Linked DNA regions of Homo sapiens: region 1 is linked to region 2. A link means that fine-mapping ties the variant in region 2 to the expression of a gene that starts in the linked region. Tissue or cell type: pancreas. Region 2 holds a variant in brackets; the other region holds the start of a gene. All regions are shown on one strand. Distances are between the middles of the regions.

Region 1 (2,894 bases), 28 kb before region 2:
CTTCCGGTTCTCCTAACCGTTGCCCTGGGAGTCAAGAAAACCCGGTGCCAGGACCGGCTCCGGCTGTGCTGGCACGATATCCCCTGACATCCGCAGGTCAGGGACTGTGGCGGAGCAGCGGTTAGGGCCAGCCACATTCCCAGGCCACAAGGGCTCCCTGCCTAGCAGCTGCTTGCATGCCCCTGGTGACGGGGAGCTCACCACCTACACACAGGCCTCACTGACACTTAGGCAGCTGGCCATGAACACTACGGTGTCTCACCAGGGACCAGCCTCAGAAAAGATCTGGAACAGCACCATTGGCTGGGGTTGGAAGACCTCAGTTTCTCCTCCTCCCAAGGGGCACAGAGAAGCTGCCCTGACTCCCTGCCAGGGGCTACTGCGGGAAAACACCTTCCTTCCTGCAGGCCCTGCCCAGACAAGCCCTGGCCCCACAGCCAGGAGGGTAGGCCCCCCTCACATGGCTGGTGTCAGTGATTCCGCCCTCGTCCAGCCCCCGTGGCCACAGACAAGGTTCCCCAAGGATAACGGGGCCAGGGGCCAGTCTGGGATAATTTAGGGCCCCAGCAGAGGGACTTTCCTTATTTCTTCTGTCACAGCTCAAAGTGGAAAATTGGAACTACCCTGCAAGTCAGCCTGAGGAATCTCCTGCCCCAGGAACAGATCCTGCCCACAGGCCCCCAGAAGAAAAGCACAGGCCAGCTGTGCAACTCCGGCTCCACGGCCCCCTTCCTGGCCTCAGTTTCTCCTCTGGCAATGCCCAGGCCTCACCTCTGCCTTGCCTGGAACCCCCGCTGGCATGTAGCGGCCTGGAAAGAGAAACCAGATGCGGACGTCCTTTGAAACCCTGAAACACAAGGCGCCTCCTGCTCCCCGGGAGGCCGGGCTGCCGAGGGCTGAGGCCCTAGACAGGGCAGGGTGTTCGAGCCTCAGTGTCCCCGTTTGTCAACGGCCTTTCCTGCCTCTTCTCCATGGCGGTGGGGTGAGATGGTGGTGGGAGGTGGGGCGGCGAAAAAGAAAATTCCAGGTCTCCGCAGGGGTCCAGAATGGCAGGACCCCCAAGCAGACCGCGCCCCTTCACCGGTTGGGGGTCTCGGCCCTCAGCGGCGGGGCGGGGCCTGGGGAGGGGCCAGGCGGCGTGGGGCGGGGCCTGTCGGGCGGGACCTGACAGCGTGGGGGCGGGACTTACCAGGAGGCGGGACGTGCCTAGGGCGCGAGCCCGTACTGGGGCCGGGCGGCGTGGGGCGGGGCCTCTCGGGAGGCAAAACCTGGAGGCTGGGGGCGGGGCCTGTCCGGAGTCGGGGCCTGCCTGGAGCGGGAGCCTGTGCCGGGGCCAGGAGGCGTGGGAACGGGGCCTATCAGGAGGCAGGACCCGGCGGCTGGGGGCGGGGCCTGTCGGGAGGTGGGGCCTGCCTGGGCGGGAGCCTATGCCGGGGCTGGGAGGTGTGAGGACGGGGCCTATCCGGAGGCAGGACTTGGCGGCTGGGGGCGGGGCCTACAAGGAGGCGGGGCCGGCGGGGGCGGGGCCGGGCTCGGCTTCTCTTAGGGACCCGGCACTCGTCGCCCTCAGTCCGGCTCAGCTGGGGCTGGGCGCCGTGGGTCTGGCGGTTCCGTAGCGGTCCCAGCGTCTGTCCCGCCGGCCGGGCGGTCGCGGCACAGCCGCGGGAAGGTGTCGGAGGGCGGTTCCGCCGCGCGGCGGGCGCGCCGCCCACATGGCGGCCATCAGGGCGCTGCAACAGTGGTGCCGGCAGCAGTGCGAGGGCTACCGCGACGTGAATATCTGCAACATGACCACGTCGTTCCGCGACGGCCTGGCTTTCTGCGCCATCCTGCACCGCCACCGGCCCGACCTCATGTAAGTCCTGCCTGGCGCCCTTTGATTCTTCTGCTGTTCGGCTGCGCGCTGACACGGGCGGGGAAACTGAGGCCCGGGCGGCTGGGGGATGGGGAGCCGAGGCGTGGGACTGGGCAGGCACAGCCCACCGTGCAGCCCCCCGAGGCTGTCCTCAGTGGCCTCAGTGTGCCCGGACACCGAATGCAGCTGGGCCAGAGCCATGGCATCCCCCGCCCGCCGGCTGAGTCAGACGTGACTCAGGGCGGCTCCTGGGCCCTGGCTTCAGTCCAGTCCCCCTCTGTGTCCCTGGGAAAGGCCAGCAGAGCTGCCTCTTTGGGCCCTCCGAGGCTCTCACTGCCCAGGGGCCTGGCCACCAGATGGGGTCCCTGGATAGCCCTCGTATGGGCACTGACCCTCCCCCAGCCTGTTCAGGCCCCTGGGGGGATGTGGCCAGGGCCACTGTGGGGGAGCGGCCAGTGCAGGGCAGGAAGCCCCCAGACCCCAGGTGCTGCTGCCAGCCGGGCCTCTGAGGCCCCGGGTGATAGGGCCCGAGATGGAGAACAGCCCCCATCTCTGGGAGCAGCAGGAGGTGGCAGGGGTTGAGGACTAGGCTGTCTCTCCCCAGGAGGGTCTTGGCGTGTGTAGCTGGGCAGCTGGCCCTGCCCGTTGCTGAATCTTGGCCCGAGCCTGGACCTGCTCCATTGTTTATTCACTCAGCAAACGCTCTTTGGCTAAATGACTGGGACCAGGCTTGCTGGGACAGAGATCTGTGTGTCGGGGCTGGGGGCCAGACGCTCAGGAAGGGGGGCCCTCAACGGCCACCTGCAGCCCAGGCACCTTCTGGGCAAAGCGTTCTCCTGAGTGTGTTTTTGGTGGGAAGGTCTCGGGGTTGGGAGGAGCCACAGGCAGCACCTGGGGCCTCTGTCAGGCCGCAGCTGTGCAGACCAGAGAACCGAGGCTAAGAGGAGGGGTCCTTGCTCAGGTCACACAGCCCCAGCCCGTTGCGCAGATCCGGGGCTCCTCCCCTGTGCCCCTGGACACTGTCCTGCCAGTCCCACTC
Region 2 (2,894 bases):
AGGCCTCTCTTGGAGTCAGGCCACTGGGACCGAGTGTGTTGGTGGAAACTCCCTGTGCCCTCCGAGGACTGGGAGGCAGTGGCTGGCAGCAGTGGGACCCTGGAGCCCCCAGGAGACTTCTGCAGGGGGGGGTCTCACCTGGGTGTCGAGGAGTAGGGGTCTCTCGGTGGATGGGCAGGGTGTGCCCTATTGCAGGAACAGCATAGGCAGTGATCTTGGGAGCTTGAAGATGTGTGGTGGGGCAGGTTGGGGCGGGGCCGGGGTCAGGGTCAGGTGAGGCGGAGCGGGTGATGGAGAGAGAGGGGCTCTGTCAGGACCTGGGCCGGCAGGGACCTTCCAGGTGCAGCGAGGTGGCCTCGTTCCTCAGGCACTGGGTGCCTGGGGTGGTTCTGAGCAGAAGCCCCAGGGCCTCTGCTGTGTTAGGAGCATGACGCCGTGGAGGGCGGTCTGGACCGGGTCCCGGAGCTGAGCCTGTGGGTCCCCCTGGGATCTCAGCCCCGTGGGTCCCCCTGGGATCTCAGCCCCGTGCTCACGTCGTAAGGCCTGACCCGCGGCAGTGTGGCCTCTTCACCACCAGGGGGAGGCAGAGAGCCACTTAGTGGAGAGGGGCAGCCGGGAGCCTGGAATAGCTCCGTTTTTCAGACAGGGAAACTGAGGCTGGGAGAGGGCTACGGCTCTCCCACGTCACACAGCAAGCGAGGCGGGGCCAGGGCAGGGGGCTGCGTAGCATTTTTGAGACCAGAACGGGAAGGGAGTGTTGTCCAGCAAGTTAGGGGCGTGGGCACCTGGGGCTCGGTCCTGCTGTGGACTCACACCTGGGGGTGTCCCACCGCAGGGCCAGGAAGCTTCCGCCCCCACCATCAGCCCCCTGCATCTGGGGACCTCAGAAGCAGCCCTGGGGTGCCAGGTGCGCTCCAGGCTGGGCACACAGTTGGTGCTCAGTGATCAGAGCCCCTGCAACAAGTGGTCAGGTCTGCCAGGCACTAAGCCAGCCCTGCGGGATGTCCTTGCTGTCCACCAGGGGCCCAGCACCTGCAGACCCCGGTGACACCATCATGGAGAGACAGGCAGGAACGCAGCCCTGGGGCCATGGGCGTTGGCCAGGCCCTGTGATGCCTGTGCTGCCTGTGCTGCAGGAGGCTGTGAGGATGGGCGTGGGAACCCCTGAGCAGCCACTCGGGCACAGGTGGGGCTGGCTGCGCCGCCGCCCGGCTCCTGCAGAGGCTGCCCCAACCCCAATGTGGAAGAGTTTCAGCCCGGGCCCCACCCACCCTAGATGACCCCTCACAACTTTCAGGGAGGGCAGAGGCACGCAGTTCCCCAGTGGCCTGGCTGGACGTCACCCACACCTGCCAGAGACTCCGGGCCAGCGTCTCGTGCCTGTGCACGTGGCAGGCAGTCCATGCACATCAGAGGCTTTCTCTCTACAGACATGGCTAGGAACAGCCAGTCTTCCTGAATGGATATGGGGGTGGGTGGGGCCGCAGAGAAGGGGAAGAGCTGTTCCCTGACCCACA[T/C]CCCCGTCGGCCCCTGTATCTGCACTGGCCTCAATACTACAGCCTCAGGTCTGGGGAGCAAGGGCTGGATTGAGGAGTGTTCTGGGCTCAGGGACCGGTGTGGTCCTTCTGGTGAGCTCTGGGGTGGGGAGCTGACACTGGCCCCGTGTGGCTGCGTCAGGAGGGACAAGGAGGGAGGCAAGGCTGGACCAAGCAGAGTCTCCACTGGGATGCTTGGAATTTGGACTTGGACTTGAGTGGCCCCTCCAGGCCGGGCACAGGGGGCCAGCCCAGCCATTACAGGGCACTGGTCTGTGGGAGGGTGGGGGCAGCTGGTGGGGACTTGTGTTCACCCCTTGCGAAGCCAGGGCAGGCTTGGGCTGATTCCCAGGAGTTCTTCCAGCCTCACCTCTGTCACCCTTGCCCCCTCCGCTCCGGCTGCCGGGCCTTGGCCACGGGCGTTTGCATTTGCTGGTCCTGCTCCTGGGGCCCCTGCACTCCACATAGCTGGCATCCTGCTATCTCTGCTTAACTGCCCTTTTCGGAGAAGCTCCTGCCCCTCACCCTGATTTCTTTCTTTCTTTTTAGAGACAGGGTCTCACTCTGTTGCCCAGACTGGGGTGCAGTGGCGTGATCACGGCTCCCTGCAGCCTTGACCTCCTGGGCTCAAGTGATCCTCCCACTTCAGCCTCCCGAGTAGCTGGGACACCCGGCGCACGCCACCACGCCCGGCTAATTTTTAAAGTTTTTTTTTGTGGAGACACGGTTTTGCCATGTTGCCCAGGCTGGTGTTGAACTCCTGGCCTCAAGCAATCCTCCTGCCTTGGCCTCCCAAACTGCTGGGATGACAGGCGTGAGCACACGGCCACCCTGGTTTATTGCCAACACTCGGAACGCACCTATGTTTAGATGCTTGTTTGGGCTTCCTCTCTGTGACGGATCCTCCGGAGGTCCCGGCTCCTCCGTCTTTCTGCCACGCCATCCTCAGCGCCTAGAACAGTGCCTGACACACGGCAGGAGCCTGATGAGGATTTGTTGAATGAATGAATGACACCAGGGCTCAACGCCACTCCAGGACTCAGTCTTCTCACCTGTCAAGGGGGCTAGCACCTGGCCCAGGGTTGCTACCTGGTCCACTGGTCCAGGGAGACAGACCTGCTTGAGCCTGACTGGTTTCGTACTTGTGGGACCCCCGGGGCTGCCCCTGCCCTGCCCGGGGTGGGAGGATTGAATCAGGTCTCGTGGGGTGGGCAGTGGAGCCACTGCCAGCGGGCACACACCAGGCACCTCCTGCCCTACCCAGACTTGGGCTGAGCAGGGGAGGGACAGGGAGGGACTCGGGAAGAGAGCACAACGTCTCTTGGGGGATTTTCCGGGCATCCCACAACGGGGGGCTGC

Evidence for each region. PIP is the estimated chance that this variant, and not a neighbour inherited with it, causes the effect.
Region 1: MICALL2 starts here. The variant in region 2 is fine-mapped to the expression of MICALL2 in pancreas (GTEx, PIP above 0.99).

What each region holds. Positions count from the first base shown.
Region 1 is chr7:1,458,145-1,461,038 of GRCh38, reverse strand. MICALL2 (MICAL like 2) reads left to right here and starts at 1,569. Exons shown (of 17, transcript NM_182924.4): 1 at 1,569-1,855. The coding sequence starts at 1,713. It overlaps MICALL2-DT (MICALL2 divergent transcript), which reads right to left and starts at 1,120. Exons shown (of 2, transcript XR_001745046.2): 1 at 772-1,120. RefSeq lists enhancers at 1-106, 1-194, 195-746, 2,170-2,892, 2,893-2,894 and a silencer at 1,077-1,796.
Region 2 is chr7:1,430,332-1,433,225 of GRCh38, reverse strand. No RefSeq gene overlaps it. Among named protein-coding and RNA genes, the nearest start is that of MICALL2, 28 kb to the left of the region's middle. The variant T/C (reference allele first, on the strand shown) is at 1,518.